4 linked regions of the Homo sapiens genome follow. The protein of the gene in region 3 purifies or fractionates together with the protein of the main gene of each other region. This does not show direct contact. Each region holds a gene or a part of one and is shown on either strand. Other genes may lie near its edges. The genes, in order: ATP1A2, PIGR, KCTD21 and TIMM50.

What was found.
Region 1: the proteins of KCTD21 (region 3) and ATP1A2 purify together in Homo sapiens (affinity purification with mass spectrometry, with the first as the bait; one large-scale study listed by BioGRID). This does not show direct contact.
Region 2: the proteins of KCTD21 (region 3) and PIGR purify together in Homo sapiens (affinity purification with mass spectrometry, with the first as the bait; one large-scale study listed by BioGRID). This does not show direct contact.
Region 4: the proteins of KCTD21 (region 3) and TIMM50 purify together in Homo sapiens (affinity purification with mass spectrometry, with the first as the bait; one large-scale study listed by BioGRID). This does not show direct contact.

What each region holds. Positions count from the first base shown.
Region 1 is NC_000001.11:160,132,357-160,136,397, forward strand, and holds part of ATP1A2 (sodium/potassium-transporting ATPase subunit alpha-2 precursor), read left to right. Parts: intron 1-2,127; coding exon 2,128-2,264; intron 2,265-2,788; coding exon 2,789-2,939; intron 2,940-3,077; coding exon 3,078-3,246; intron 3,247-3,482; coding exon 3,483-3,637; intron 3,638-3,890; coding exon 3,891-4,014; intron 4,015-4,041. UniProt on the Homo sapiens protein: This is the catalytic component of the active enzyme, which catalyzes the hydrolysis of ATP coupled with the exchange of sodium and potassium ions across the plasma membrane.
Region 2 is NC_000001.11:206,936,253-206,940,293, reverse strand, and holds part of PIGR (polymeric immunoglobulin receptor precursor), read left to right. Parts: intron 1-830; coding exon 831-1,175; intron 1,176-2,542; coding exon 2,543-3,199; intron 3,200-4,041.
Region 3 is NC_000011.10:78,174,845-78,178,885, reverse strand, and holds part of KCTD21 (BTB/POZ domain-containing protein KCTD21), read left to right. Parts: intron 1-900; exon of another isoform or gene 901-1,755; coding exon of another isoform or gene 1,756-1,834; intron 1,835-4,041. UniProt on the Homo sapiens protein: Probable substrate-specific adapter of a BCR (BTB-CUL3-RBX1) E3 ubiquitin-protein ligase complex mediating the ubiquitination and subsequent proteasomal degradation of target proteins. Promotes the ubiquitination of HDAC1.
Region 4 is NC_000019.10:39,487,266-39,491,306, reverse strand, and holds part of TIMM50 (mitochondrial import inner membrane translocase subunit TIM50), read right to left. Parts: intron 3,247-4,041; coding exon 3,090-3,246; intron 2,769-3,089; coding exon 2,662-2,768; intron 1,589-2,661; coding exon 1,487-1,588; 3' UTR 1-1,486. UniProt on the Homo sapiens protein: Essential component of the TIM23 complex, a complex that mediates the translocation of transit peptide-containing proteins across the mitochondrial inner membrane. Has some phosphatase activity in vitro; however such activity may not be relevant in vivo.

The sequences.
Region 1 (4,041 bases), on a different chromosome or scaffold from region 3:
GGGAGGTTGAGCTTTTAGGAGACTACCTGGTTTGAGGAGGGACTGGATTTGGGGAAGAACTGGAGTCAGGGAGAGACAGGTTAAGAGGCCATTGCCATAGTTCAGGCAAAGAATGATGACCTGAACTAGGGCAGAAACAAAGGGAATGGAGAGGAATAGCCATGTCTGAGAAATGTTTTGAGAACTTGGTGACCAAACTGGATATGGAAGGTGAGGAAGATACAGGAGAGAAGGGGACAGGATGAATAGAGAGGACAACATCTAAGGTAGGGAGCAGTAGCAGGCTTGGTGGGGTGGCAGGAGTAGAGAAAAGGAGTTCAATGTTGACCTTAAGCTTAAAGAGTCTATAAGATACCCCAGGAAAGACAGATGTTCCAGTGAACATTGGAGTATGGTTTAGAGCTCATGAAAGATGGTCAGGACTGGAGATTTGAATCTCATTAGCACAAGGGTGCAAACTAAAGGCTTATAGTATGTTGTATTATATTGCCCAGAAAGAGCAGACAGGTCAAGTGAAGGGAGGAGAATGAAATCCTGTGCCAAACCAACATTTAGGCACAAGAGGAACCAGTGAGGAGGGGAGAGGGTGGTAGGAACCAATGCCATTTAATCTTCATGACCACCTAGAAAGGCAGGAATCATCTCTGCATTGTGCTGAGACCTCAGTGCTTCACTTGCCTAAGGTGCTGTAGCTGGAGAAGGTCGGTGTTTAAACTTGAGCCCCTCATTCAACTCCAAAGCCACTGCTTCTTCCATCCTACTAGGCTGCCACCCTGAGAGGCTGGGAAAGAGCATGCAGAGGAGTGGAGGGAAAACAGGAATGGAGGAGTATGTGGAAGCCAGGGGAGGGCAGGGTTTCAAGGAGAAGAGGTCAACGGTGCCAAATGCCTCAGAGGGGTCAAGTAGGATGAGGACGGCAAAGACACTTTTCATTTTTCAATTGAGAGGCCCCTGTGGCCTTTGGGTGGCAGTTTCAGTGAAGTGGTGGGAGTGGAAGATAAGGCAGTGGGGACCATGGAGGCTTCCTTTTCAGTATCCATAGGACTTGCCCTGCAAGCCCACACATGCAAATGCTATCCTAACCCAACTCTGCTCACCTCATAGCCTCTTAGCCCATCAGATGCCAGCCACCCTCCCCATCCCAACTCCATTCACTCTGCAACAATAGCAATGAACATTATGGTGAAGGTAGGGACCACCGTGCTCACCAGGGAGGATGTCAGAGGCAGATGCTCAAGGTGGTGGAGGCAGGGGTGTTGTCTCCATCTTATTCCTGTTCTGTCCATTACATTGCTGCAGTGATCAATATTTGACACTAAGAACCTCATGTCCTATATCCAGGTCCCTGTGCATTTGAGCAAATTGTAGCCCCTCTCTAAGCCTTGGTTTCCTCATGTGTAAAATAAAGGAGTTGTTAAAGGGTCCTTCCAGCTCTGACTGCCTTGAATCCCATGAAATCCAAAATCCTAAAATATCTCCTAAATAATCCTAAAGATTTGAGGCTTCTCTTCCAGGGGATCCTCATGAACTTGTTACTCTGTTATGGATACTTTCCTGCACTTAAGCAAACTATCTCTCTCTAACCCTCTGAACATAACTCAACTTGCCATTATCTTTCCTCCTCACCCACCCACTCAAATTCACACAGACACACACAAATCCCCACCTCACATACACACACATCCCACACACACACATAGACACACACAATCCCCACCCCCCACACACACATCTCACACACACGCACACATACACAAATCCCCACCCCACATACACACACACACACATACCCCACACACACACACACATCCCACACACACACATTCCCTCTCACACACACACACAATCCCCACCCCCTCACACACACACAATCCCCACCCACACACACACACACACATCCTACACACACATACACACACCCCACACACACACACATACACACACACACATACACCCCACCCCAGCCACTCCCCTGCCCACAGACGCACACACACATGCCCTTATTTCGGTTGGGATCTGCCATCCCCAGACATCTCGCTATCTAGCTTTCTCTTACTTTGGGAGAGGAACAGGAGGGGGATAAACCCTTAATACTACTTTCCTGTTGTCTCCTCTCCTTCCCACTAGGTGATCATGGTAACCGGGGATCACCCTATCACAGCCAAGGCCATTGCCAAAGGCGTGGGCATCATATCAGAGGGTAACGAGACTGTGGAGGACATTGCAGCCCGGCTCAACATTCCCATGAGTCAAGTCAACCCCAGGTGAGGCCTCTGCAGGAAGCCCCTGTGCCCTAATCAACACGTCCTCTTGCACAGAAGGCTTGGGTGTCCCCTGGGAGTATTTGGATAGCATTTCTGGGACCTTTATAGGCCTTACCTCTGACACTATTGTGACTGGTTCCTCAGCCCTGAGCTTGTATCCAGGCTGTGCCACTGAATACCCATGTAACCTTGGAGATGTCACATTCCCTTCCTGAGCCTCCATTTTCTCACCACAAAATTAGGATGCCATCTCCACTGCTGTAGGAGTGGGATGTGAGTAAAGAAACTAGCCCAGGGCCTAGCAAACTGCACTTACAACTGCGATGATCCCATGGTGAGGATTTAGACTCACATTCTCAAAGAGAAATGGGGGAAGTGAGTACTGAGGAGAGGAGAACTGAAGCAACAGGGGAAGCAGGCTCAGCAGGGAGCCTGCAGGCTGCGGTGGTGAAGAGAGGCAGGGGGCAGGAGGGGCTGGTACAGGTGCCAGGGGTCAGCTGTCTCTGTCCCCACCCACCCTCCAGAGAAGCCAAGGCATGCGTGGTGCACGGCTCTGACCTGAAGGACATGACATCGGAGCAGCTCGATGAGATCCTCAAGAACCACACAGAGATCGTCTTTGCTCGAACGTCTCCCCAGCAGAAGCTCATCATTGTGGAGGGATGTCAGAGGCAGGTGAGCACAGCCACGGGAGGCAGATGACAGGCAGGGACCGGGGAGGCAGGGACAGGGCCAAGACAAGCATGGAGTGAGAGGCGAGGAGCCAGGCTTGGGAAGGGGTTTCGTCCTCAAGTGTGGCCGTCTTCCCTCCAGGGAGCCATTGTGGCCGTGACGGGTGACGGGGTGAACGACTCCCCTGCATTGAAGAAGGCTGACATTGGCATTGCCATGGGCATCTCTGGCTCTGACGTCTCTAAGCAGGCAGCCGACATGATCCTGCTGGATGACAACTTTGCCTCCATCGTCACGGGGGTGGAGGAGGGTGAGGAGGCTGCATGGGTTGGGATGGTTTGCAGGATACTGAAGCCGGCACCTCTGTTCCCTGTCCCTTTACCCCAGTTGAAGAATCATTCCACAACTCTAGGCAGCCCAGCCCACTTTAGCTTCCCTTGAACACAAAATCTTCCTCTCTTGGGAAGACAGGCAGCCATGCTTCAGGGGCTGGGGGTGGGGAAGAGTCCCTCTGACCTCCCTGATGCCCTCAGAATCTCCCCACAGGCCGCCTGATCTTTGACAACTTGAAGAAATCCATCGCCTACACCCTGACCAGCAACATCCCCGAGATCACCCCCTTCCTGCTGTTCATCATTGCCAACATCCCCCTACCTCTGGGCACTGTGACCATCCTTTGCATTGACCTGGGCACAGATATGGTGAGCGCAGGAGGTGGAGGAGGGGACAGGCAAGGCAATCGTGATGGCACAGTGGCAGGGAGGAGAGGTGCACTGGGGCAGTGGCCCCAGCTGTGGGGGTTACAGGAGACAGGCACAGGCCTGGAAGACAATGGGGTCTGAATACACGCTTTTTTAACTGTGTCAACGATCGTCACTGTCGAAGATCAATTGCTTCTGTCATCTCCTACGTCCCTTCAAATGCCCTCCCTGCCCCATTTCCTACCCCACACAGGTCCCTGCCATCTCCTTGGCCTATGAGGCAGCTGAGAGTGATATCATGAAGCGGCAGCCACGAAACTCCCAGACGGACAAGCTGGTGAATGAGAGGCTCATCAGCATGGCCTACGGACAGATCGGTGCGCCAAGCCCCGGGCCTCGGGAGG
Region 2 (4,041 bases), on a different chromosome or scaffold from region 3:
GAATGGCACTTCCTAATCTCAAGGCCAGGGGTCTGTGAAAGATCTTCTTTGAGAATAACAAAGACCTTAACTTCAACCAAGCATCTCTATGACCCGCTGTGAAATCTGAGGGAAGTCACTTATCCTTTCTGGCTCTCAATATTTTTATCTGGGGGAAAAAAAAGAAAAGAAAATCATCTACAAAGTGCTTTTAGAAATATAAGGAAATAACACATGGCAAGTGCAAACATGTAACACCTTACGAAAGTGGTGTTATTGTTTGAAAAAACAATGGATGGCTGGATGCTGGCTCACAGCTGTAATGCCAGCACTTTGGGAGGCCAAGGAGGGTGGATTGCTTGAGGTCAGTAGCTCAAGACCAGCCTGGCCAACATGGAGAAACCTTGTCTCTACTAAATAGAAACCAAAATTAGCTAGCATGCACCTGTAGTCCCAACTACTTGGGAGGCTGAGGCATGAGAATCGCTTGAACCTGGGAAGCGGAGGTTGCAGTGAGCCGAGATCGTGCCACTGCACACCAGCCTGGGCGACAGAGAGAGACTTTGTCTCAAAACAATAAAAATATATAAAATAAAAAACAAGGGTTATCATAAATTTGTCATTCCCTTGTCCTTGAAATGGTTATCATTAATGAATAACAATTCCAATTTAATCATGATTAAAACAGTCACTTTATTTAATCTCAGCAATTTTCCAGCTGTGATATATGATAAATTATCAACACAGGGCCTACGTGTCAGGTAGAAAACCACATCTACTCATAGTGGGTTATCTGGAACAGGCTTTACCTCCCAAGGGCCTCAGAAAGCCTCTCTCTTCTGTTCCCACAGCCATCTCCACGAAGAGTCCCATATTTGGTCCCGAGGAGGTGAATAGTGTGGAAGGTAACTCAGTGTCCATCACGTGCTACTACCCACCCACCTCTGTCAACCGGCACACCCGGAAGTACTGGTGCCGGCAGGGAGCTAGAGGTGGCTGCATAACCCTCATCTCCTCGGAGGGCTACGTCTCCAGCAAATATGCAGGCAGGGCTAACCTCACCAACTTCCCGGAGAACGGCACATTTGTGGTGAACATTGCCCAGCTGAGCCAGGATGACTCCGGGCGCTACAAGTGTGGCCTGGGCATCAATAGCCGAGGCCTGTCCTTTGATGTCAGCCTGGAGGTCAGCCAGGGTAAGGATCCAAGCTCCTTGGGCTTCTGGGGGAAAGTTAGAGGGAATTCTCTAAGGTGCATGGAGGGCTTGAGGAGGAACTTCCTGACAAGGATGTGTAGCCGGGTTGGGGGTCAGAAGGCACCCCTTTCCCCAGGCAAAGACTTCTTTAACAGGAGAAGGAGACAGATAGGGCCTACTTGGGGGTGATGAGTGAACCCTTCTAGGACTTGGTGGCCTATAACATTTTAGGCTTTCTGGAGACCCCAGCTTAGAAGGGTATCAGAAGGACAAGTTTTCTGGTGTTTGCTACAGGTAGAAAGGGAAATCTGACATCAGGCTAAGGAGATAGAAAAGGTAGGGAGAGATTTACAGGGATCCTTAAATTCCTATCATTAATGCACCTTTCCATCAAGGTTTGGGCCGCCAAAAGGCTTCTTGTAAAATGCATATTTTTTTTTTAACCTGGGAACCCTTAGTCTTTTGGTATTATCAGGGTAAATTAGATTATTAGATCTTGACCAAAGACCAAGATCCTGAAAGGATGGGTTGCTAACAAGCCTATTCTAGTTGGAGAAAGAGAAAAAAAGAAAAGCTCTTTCTGACAAGGGTTTAACAATGAGGCTGTTTTAGATAGTCAAGGGCAACTCAAAAGAGAGGTCTACGGAGAAAAGAAATTCAGGGGGACTCCCAAAGACATGTCTTGCTCCTTTGGAATATGCATACTATTGTCTGTGGACTAAATGAGGAGGTCATTTAGGTGGGGATCAAGATTCAAAACCACAGAATCTTTAGAGGTGAAGAGGGCTTAGAGTTCACCCTAACCGGACACTTAGAAGAACATGCTGATGACGGGTATGCAGCCTCTGATTAAGCACTTTAGCAGAAACTCACTGCTCCCTGAGACAGCCCATTTCACATTTAGACTCTTGTAATTTTTAGAAACTTCTATTGTATGCGTTGAAATCCATCACCCTGCATTTACATTCATTCTGTTCATTTCAGCACACATTAATTTGGCCACCTACTACCCAGAGGCATTGTGCTTGTCACAGCAGAGGGGTCAAACATGAGAAAAACATGTTCCAGCCTTCAAGGAACTTCCAGTCCATGGAGAACATAATTACCCATACACCAGATTGGATGTAATAAGTGATGCAGATGTATCAAGAAAGCACAGGGCAGGGAGAGATTAGTGTTAGCTTGGGAAAGGTTTCATGGAGAAGACCGCTGTCAAGCTGGGCCTTCCGACAGCATTCCTCTGGGAAGGAGGGCATTCCAGGTTATAAGTCCACCCACACCCTAACTAGGAATAGCAAATAGTCCTATGTTGCAAGAAAGTAGAATCGTAACTTGCCTGCCCCCTACCTTGCACCCCTCATCCTGCAGGTCCTGGGCTCCTAAATGACACTAAAGTCTACACAGTGGACCTGGGCAGAACGGTGACCATCAACTGCCCTTTCAAGACTGAGAATGCTCAAAAGAGGAAGTCCTTGTACAAGCAGATAGGCCTGTACCCTGTGCTGGTCATCGACTCCAGTGGTTATGTAAATCCCAACTATACAGGAAGAATACGCCTTGATATTCAGGGTACTGGCCAGTTACTGTTCAGCGTTGTCATCAACCAACTCAGGCTCAGCGATGCTGGGCAGTATCTCTGCCAGGCTGGGGATGATTCCAATAGTAATAAGAAGAATGCTGACCTCCAAGTGCTAAAGCCCGAGCCCGAGCTGGTTTATGAAGACCTGAGGGGCTCAGTGACCTTCCACTGTGCCCTGGGCCCTGAGGTGGCAAACGTGGCCAAATTTCTGTGCCGACAGAGCAGTGGGGAAAACTGTGACGTGGTCGTCAACACCCTGGGGAAGAGGGCCCCAGCCTTTGAGGGCAGGATCCTGCTCAACCCCCAGGACAAGGATGGCTCATTCAGTGTGGTGATCACAGGCCTGAGGAAGGAGGATGCAGGGCGCTACCTGTGTGGAGCCCATTCGGATGGTCAGCTGCAGGAAGGCTCGCCTATCCAGGCCTGGCAACTCTTCGTCAATGAGGGTAAGACCCTAGAGAGGGAGGGGGAGTAGGTGGGGCAGTCTCGCAGGTGAGAGCCAAGCTCAGCTCCCTCTGAGTGTATTCATCAATAGTCATCAATCAGCCAACAGCATCCACTCAATGACCAGCCCCGAACTGGAGGCTGCGTGGGCTGCTGCACAGGACAGCAAGAAAAAGCAACCTCTGCCTGATGGCAGCTCCTAATTACTCTTCTGTTATCAAAGTCATTTTGATGGCTGTCCCTGCTTAACAAGCAAGAGGTGAGTAAAGCTCTTGATTGAGGCAGGACTTATAGACTGTGTTTCAGGGCTGTGGCAGGCTCTGCAGGGGTCCTCTGTCCCCTCCCCTGGCCCCTGAACAAGATGGGTGCCTCATCCCTCACATTCAGATGGAAAAAGGATTGGCTTATCTTGGTCTCAATGCGTTCCCAGGAGTGCCCCAGCCTCTAAATGTTTCACTGTCACATTTCGTAGGGTTATTTGTGAATTTCAGCACCATCTGGCCCACTCAGCCCTACTCCAGTGAGCCATCAGCATGGTGAAAGAATTAAATCCCAGCTCCTTCTCATCCCAGAGCACCCTGCATAGAGTTGCCCTCGTGAGAAGCAGCAAACCAGTACTTGCAGTTCCAAGTATCTGTGCTTGTGACTTTTTTTTTTTAAAGGGGCTTATATTCTCTGCATGCCATGTCCACATCCAGCTCTGGGTTTTCACCAGAATCCCCTGCATCTTTGGTCACCTGCTTCTCTCTGGATCTCAGCTTTAGCTGCCTGGAGAATGGCTATCGTCTTTGAGATGCCCCTTGGGGCCCCAACAATTAAGCTCACCTTTGCTACATACTTTATA
Region 3 (4,041 bases):
GCGTTTGATCCTTTGTCACCCAGCTGGGGCGATGGCGTTTTTCCTCTTGGTTCAGCTTTAGGAATTTGGTGTTAATTGGTCTTAGGGTCCCTGCCCCCAGACCCAGGATTTTCCTTCTGATCCAGCTTTGGGAAGTCAACAGAATTGGCCTCAGATTTTTTGCCCCAGACCTTGGTGTTTTCTCTTTTATGAAGTTAGCACAAATTGGCCTTAAGTTCCTTGTCTCCAAACCTTGTTCTCCTGCCTCACTTGCAGAATATCCAAGTGGAGGTGGCCAGGAGGCATCTGGGAACACATAGGGGACTGAGGCTCAGTGGTGTTAGTTCATTACTACCTGACTGCAAACCTCCGCCGACTCATGAAACTCCCCTCGTGTCATGTCATTTTGCCTTTTGTAGCAGGGCCGTGGATTTGTGATGATGGACACTGTGGCCCTGTGGCTAGAAAATAGGGGCTTAGACCAGGCACGGTGGCTCACGCCTGTAATCCCAGCACTTTGGGAGGCCGAGGCGGGCAGATCACAAAGTCAAGAGATCGAGACCATCCTGGCCAACATGGTGAAATCCCATCTCTACTAAAAATACAAAAATAAATTAGCCGGGCCTGGTGGCGTGCACCTGTAATTGCAGCTACCCGGGAGGCTGAGGCAGGAGTGTCGCTTGAATCTGGGAGGCAGAGGTTGCAGTGAGCTGAGATTGCGTCACTGCACTCTAGCCTGGCGACAGAGCGAGACTCCATCTCAAAAAAAAAAAAAGAAAAGAAGGGCTTAGAGGACTGAGCTCTGTGACTGGATAGGTAAGGGGAGATCACCACAGAGAGCACCCTAGACTCGGAGCAGGAGACCTGCCTGCTAGCCAGCCTCTGCCCTGACTGCCTGTGCAACTGTGCTGCTCTCCCCAGACAAATGACCGGGAGCCATGACGTCATCGGGGGCGCAGGAAAGCAGGTGCTCTGCTGCTTTTGCAAGCAGAGAAATAAGAGTTTGGGCACCTACCCAGGGGTCCCAGGGAATGCCCTGTGGCTCCTGACCTCCCCCGCCTGTAATGCTCTGAGCACTTCAGCAGTAATGCATGGAAGAGATAAGGGTCTGTGACCCATGGAACTGTCCAAGTCCTCTCTGACACCCGCTTCTTTTCCTGCCGTGAAGGTAAGCCACTTTATAGATCCTAGGCCTGAAACCCAATGTTGGGAGGGAGTGTTTGTTTTCAAGAAGAAAGAGAGACTGAAACTAGAACATGCACATTTCTATCCAGAAGAAAACAGTTGGAGTAGACTAGAGTCCTACAAAGAGGGCAACAGGGAAGAAGATTCTGGACTGAGTAAAGGGGACCCACTCCTGGGTCCACCTCCTGCCTGGGCCCTCTGGAGAGAGAATTGGCCAGATTCAGCCCTGAGTCACAGCACCCTCCCCAGTTGCTGCCTCACAGCCATCTCCACACCAGCAGCCATGCCCCCAGCGGCAGCTCGCCCACACCTCTGTGGGACCTCCCCACCGTCTCGCAGCCCATCTGCTCCAGGCTTCTACTGACGATTTCGTATTTCACATGGACTCATTTCTCCTCAGACACTCCAGATGGGGAATGCCTTTCTGCAATATCAAAGTGCCCCATTAGACTGGGGAGGAATCATGAGGGGACATACCCCTGCCCCTGCCACAGAGTCGAGCATGGCAGCTGAATATCTCTCACACTGGCATGGCCCCCATCCTCTGGAGAAAGGAGGCCTCAGTGCAGTCAGCCTCTTCAGGAGGCAGAAATGTTGAGAAGTTCTCGCCACCCCTGCTGGGTGACTTTGGGGAGGTGTCTCCTCAGACCTCTGTTTCTCCATCTGGACGGTAAGCATGCTTGAAAGGTTGGGTTTTTGTTTGTTTTTTGAGACCGGATCTCCCTCTGTCTGCCAGGCTGGAGTTCTGTGGCGTAATCACGGCTCACTGCAGCCTCAACCTCCCAGACTCAAGCGATCCTCCCACCTCAGCCTCCCAAGTAGTTGGGACTACAGGTGCTCGCCACCACACCCTGCTTTGTTGTTGTTGTTGTTGTTGTTGTTGTTGTTGTTGTAGAGACAGGATTTCGTCATGTTGGCCAGGCTGGCCTTGAACTCCTGAGCTCAAACGATCTGCCCACCTCGGCCTCCCAAAGTGCTGGAATTACAGGCATGAGCCACTGTGTCTGCCAGCCAGATAGTTTTTGATGTGCCAAGGTTCATTCCAGACCATCTCCCACATCTTCTACCTGTCTTGTCACTGTGCCTTTACTCTCTCATCTCCTCTACCAGCACAGGCTCTTCTGGGGGTAATACTGGGGCCAGTTCCTCTTGGCATCCCTACCTGCCATGTCAGGGAAGGATTGCTGAATCTGGTCCACAGGTTGGCTCTGGGGAAAGTATAGTGTTGGAAGCTGGAGCTGAGATCTCCTGTTTTCTAGAACATGTGGTGAAGGAGACTTGCCAGCCATAGATGCTGACAGCTGAGAGATTAGGGGGGCTTTGTTAAGGAGTGGATAGGGTGCCTTCAGGAGAGTGCTCTGACAGAGTCCTGCATTTGCACTGACCTTGCAGCCAGTTTCAGAGAAGCTTGGGGTGTTATGACAGCAAAGGACAGGCCACCAGGAGCCAAGAGCATCTTCATGGCAAGGCAAGTCAGCATGGGAGCAGTGAAAGTCTAGAAAGGATTGTCATTCACATGCACACGTATGTTTATTGCGGCACTATTCACAGTAGCAAAGACTTGGAACCAACCCAAATGTCCAACAATGATAGACTGGATTAAGAAAATGTGGCACATATACACCATGGAATACTATGCAGCCATAAAAAATGATGAGTTCATGTCCTTTGTAGGGACATGGATGAAATTGGAAATAATCATTCTCAGTAAAGACTACTGCAAGGACAAAAAACCAAACACCGCATGTTCTCACTCATAGGTGGGAATTGAACAATGAGAACACATGGACACAGGAAGGGGAACATCACACTCTGGGGACTGTTGTGGGGTAGGGGGAGGGGAGAGGGATAGCATTAGGAGATATACCTAATGCTAAATGACGAGTTAATGGGTGCAGCACACCAGCATGGCGCATGTATACATATGTAACTAACCTGCACATTGTGCACATGTACCCTAAAACTTTAATAATAATAAAATTTAAAAAAATTTAAAAAAAACAGGATTGTCATTTGCAGTCCGGACAGCTGAGTGACCCACTGTGGGCCTTGAAGATAGATGGAAATGACACTAATCATGGCCATTCATTGTCAAATCTTTGAGAGAGAATAATAATTAAATTCAGCAGTGTCACTGGTACAGAAGGAGGAGCACTGAGCCTGGAGTCATAAATCTCAAACCATTTGTTGAGTACTTAGAACCGATCTTTGGCTAGTAAGCATTTACACATTTTTCTTTCATATAAAAGGACCTGAGTTTGAATCCTGGCAAGGCACTTCACCTTTCTGAGCTTGAGGAATGAATCCTGGCACAGTTTTCCTCATCTGCACAACAGGAATGGATGATTATATTGTCTGTGTCAAAAGATGATACAACCTTTTTTTTTTTTTTTTTTTTGAGACAGAGTTTCACTCTTGTTGTCCAGGCTGGAGTGCAGTTGTTCAGTCCCGGCTCACTGCAACCTCCACCTCCTGAGTTCAAATGATTCTCCTGCCCCAGCCTCCTGAACAGCTGGGATTACAGGCACCCACCACCATGCCCAGCTAATTTTTGTATTTTTAGTAGAGATGGGGTTTCACCATGTTGGCCAGTCTGATCTTGAACTCCTGATCTCAGGTGATCTGCCCGCCTCGGCCTCCCTAAGTGCTGGGATTACAGGTGTGAGCCACCGCACCTGGCTGATACAACTATTATGTAAGCAAATATATGTATAAACACGTAGCATAGCTTTCAGTCCAGGCACGTTTTCCTTTCTTTCTTTAGACCAGTGGTTCTCTATTCTAACTGAACATTTAGAATCACTAAGGGAACTCTTTCAAAATACCAGGGCTGGGGCAGTATTCCAGACCAATTAAAATAGAATGTCGGCAGCAGAG
Region 4 (4,041 bases), on a different chromosome or scaffold from region 3:
TAATCTCAGCTACTTGGGAGGTTGAGGCGGGAGCATTGCTTGAACCCGGGAGGCGGAGGATGTGGTGAGCCGACGTCGTGCCATTGCACTCCAGCCTGGGCAATAAGAGCGAAACTCCGTCTCAAAAAAAAAAAACAAAGGTTTATGTGGCCACTGGCTACTGTACTGGACAGTACAGACCTAGAACATGAACCAAACATCACAGAAAGTTCCAGTGGAGAACACTGCTACATATCTGCCTGTTTTAGTTAGAAGCCAACATTTTATTTTTATTTTATTTTATTTTTTGAGATGGAGTTTCGCTGCTGTTGCCCAGGCTGGAGTGCAATGGTGCGATCTCGGCTCACCACAACCTCCGCCTCCCAGGTTCAAGCAATTCTCCTGCCTCAGCCTCCTGAGTAGCTGGGATCACAGGCATGCTCCACCACGCCCAGCTAATTTTGTATTTTTAGTAGAGATGGGGTTTCTCCATGTTGAGGCTGGTCTTGAACTCCTGACCTCAGGTGATCCACCCACCTCAGCCTCCCAAAGTGCTGGGATTACAGGCGTGAGCCACTGCGCCCCGCTAGGAGCCAACATTTTAAAATAGGGAGATTTAATATAAAAATCCCTATTTTAGCTGGGCACAGTAGCTCACACCTGGAATCCTAGCGCTTTGGGAGGCCAAAGCAGGAAGATTGCTTAAGACTAGGAGTTTGAGACCAGCTTGGGCACCAAGACCCCATCTCTACAAAAAAAAAATTTGTTTAAATTAGCTGGGTATGGTAGCACGCACCTGTAGTCCCCAGGAGGGTACTCAGGAGGCTGAGGCAGGAGGGTCACTTGGAGATCACTTGAGCCGGGAGGTCAAGGCTGTTGTAAGCTAAGATCACATCAATGCACTCCAGCCTGGGCAACAGTGAGACCCTGTCTCAAAAAAAAAAAAAAAATATTCCCAAGTTCTTGCTTCTTTTGAACAACTGGCGTGTCAAGCAACTCCAGGCCCCCTTTACCCCAGGGCCACACTGGCTGGAGCCAACCAGCAGCTGGCCTGTTGAGAGGGGTAATCTCTGGTCCACCAGAGGCCCACTAGGCCCATAACACATTCTCTCCACAGTAGCCTGGCAGCTACCTGTCTTTAAAGCCAAGTGCCATCCTCTCTTCCCTTCTCCACAGATGAGGAGTCTGTGGTCAGAGGGAGATGTATTTTTCACAGATCACGCAACACACAGGAAGACACAGCGAGGGTTTTTAGATTCCGAGACCAGGGTGAAAAATCTGCTCTGATCCAACAAAGCACCCCCACTGTGCTTGGCAGCCGATCAGCCACTGTGGGACGATGACCCAAGAGTCCCGGACCTCACCCTGATGCCCCCATCTGGAGACTCTCGGGACACAGCAGGTGTGGCGTCTGGGATGTACTTTATTGGACAAGTGGTGGCCCAAGTCTTGGTCTGGAAGCACTGGGGCCCTGGACCCAGGCACTGAGTTTGAGGAGGCCCAGAGTTCAGGGCTGTTTGGAGCGAGGCCACAAGCGGCTGGTGAGGGAGCCAAGGAAGAGGTTCTGCTTGTTGGACTTGGAGAGCTCGGCCAGGCGCTGCTGCTCCTCCTGGGGTAGGGGGACAGTTGGAGGAGAGGGTCAGCGCAAGGTGGACAGAGCCTCCTCCCAGATGCCCAGGTCCCCAGGCCTCAGCCCAGGGACCACCTTTCCTTCTGACTTCTGCCAAGTCCAGACCCCTTTCCCCAAACCCTGGGGCCCCCAGCCCAGACACAAGGGACCCTAGACCCCAGTCCCCCCACCCCAGACACTAGGAAGAGCCAGCTCTGAGCCGCAGGAGCCTAGGCTTCAATGTTTGGGGGACGACAGACTCCAATACTAGGCACTCGAGGTATTCAGGCCTGAACTGCAGTAGGTTCTCAGGCCCCAGACTGTCATAATCTCCTTCCCCAGATCCCAGGGACCCCTCCCCTGAGCCTGAGATCCTATCGCAGACCCTGTTACCCCAAGGTGAATGCTGGTGAGATCCCAGGTCCAAACCCCATGGCCCTCCTCACCAGACTGCATCATCCTGCCCCTGGGCCCTCTGAGCCCCATGACCCCTCTCTGGATGCAGGGGTGGGGGGTTCCCTGGGGGGTCCCCAGGCCCAAATCTCTAGGGACTTCTCTGGGCACTCAGGGGCTCCCAACTCTAGGAACCTAACCTAGAATCTGGTGAACCTCAGCCTAGACCCCTGGGAATCTTACCCAGACGCAATCCATACTCTCAGTCCCACTTCCAAATTACCAGGGTCCCACCAAGACTATCACATCTCTCCCCACAGCCTTGGGCCACGTGCCCAGGGAGCCTCTTTCCAGGCCTGATCTAAAACCCACAATCCACCTCCACAAGGTGCCCCCAGACCTACTCAAGACCATCAAGGGCAACCCCTCTCCCAGCCTAATCTCAAATCCTCTCCTGTTTCCTGTTCTCAGAGCAGGCTGCAGAATCAATGCATCCCCTCATTCTGGCAGCCCTACAGGACAGGCTGTGTTATATCCCCCTGGTTACAGAGACTGAGGCAGAGAGGAGGTATCTGCTCAGGGTCACACAGCCAAACCAAGAGTGTGGAGATGGACTGCCCCAGGCTCCTCCTTCAGGAGCCTCAGAGCCGATCCTCCACTCTGGGCATCTGAGCACCAACCTGCTCTAGCCGGCTTTGCCGCTGTTTGAAAGCCGCCAGCGGGTCATCCTCCAGGGCATAGTGCTCCAGCACGGTTCGCACGTCCTCCACACCATTCAGTGCAATGGCTGTGGGCACAACAGGGGGTGGTCAGCCAGGCTTCTAAAGGCCAGAGGGAGGCAGGGCCCATGAGGGGAACGTCCCGCACTGGGGCACGGGGGCAGTCAGTGCTACCTGGAATGCTTCTGAACGCTCTGAAAGGGCTCCCCTGAACATCCCCAAGTATCCCCCAAACATTCCATGAACATCCTAAGAAGCTCCTAAAGACTCCAAGGTGCTCAGGCACCTCTTGCACCTCAGTCGCCCAGCCATGAATCATGCATTTATCCTTCCTCTTCAGAGTCAGGGGCTCTGGGGTCAGAGGCCAAGGGATCAGGGGTCAGCCTTACTCTTGAGGAAGGCAGACAGATCCAACAAGACCCGGTCATCAGAGTTGCCGTCCCAGGGCCGCAGGGCAACGCCGTTATAGGGCTGCAGGCGGAAGGCTTCCTTCTTGCAGTCCACAACTACTACTCGAGCTGGGTCCCGATTCAGACATGAAATATCCTGGAAGTGAGTGACAGATCAGGTCAACATCTGTGCCCAACTCTCCCCCCATCAAGAAGACCCAAAACACACAAAACATACATACATACACAGCATCACACATACTGGGATCACAATGGCAGGGCCTCTCAAAGACCGGCTTTGGATGATGGCATCGACCCCCACAGAGGGCCAGGCATGGTGGCTCACGCCTGTAATCCCAGCACTTTGGGAGGCCGAGGCGGGCGGATCACCTGAGGTCAGGAGTTCAAGACCAGCCTGGCTAAAATGGTGAAACCCCGTATCTACTAAATACAAAAAATGGCCGGGTGCGGTGGCTCACGACCGTACTCCCAGAATTTTGGGAGGCCAAGGTGGGCAGATTGCCTGAGCTCAGGAGTTCAAAACCAGCCTGGGCAACATGGCGAAACTCTGTCTCTACTAAAAATACAAAAAATTAGCTGGGTGTGGTGGTGTGTGCTTGTAGTCCCAGCTACTCGGGAGGCTGAGGAAAGAGAATCGCTTGAACCTGGGAGGGGGAGGTTGCAGTGAACCAAGATCGCGCCACTGCACTCCAGCCTAGGCAACAGAGCGAGACTCCGTCTCACAAAAAAAATAAATAAATAAAAATAAAAATAAAAATTAGCCAGGCATGGTGGTGTGTGCCTATAGGCCCAGCTACTCAGGAGGCTGAGGTGGGAAGATCGCTTGAGCCCAGAAGGTTGAGACTGCAGTGAGCCATGTTCATCACACCACTGCACTCCAGCCTGGGTGACAGAGCAAAACCCTGTCTCAGAAACAAAAAACAAAACAACC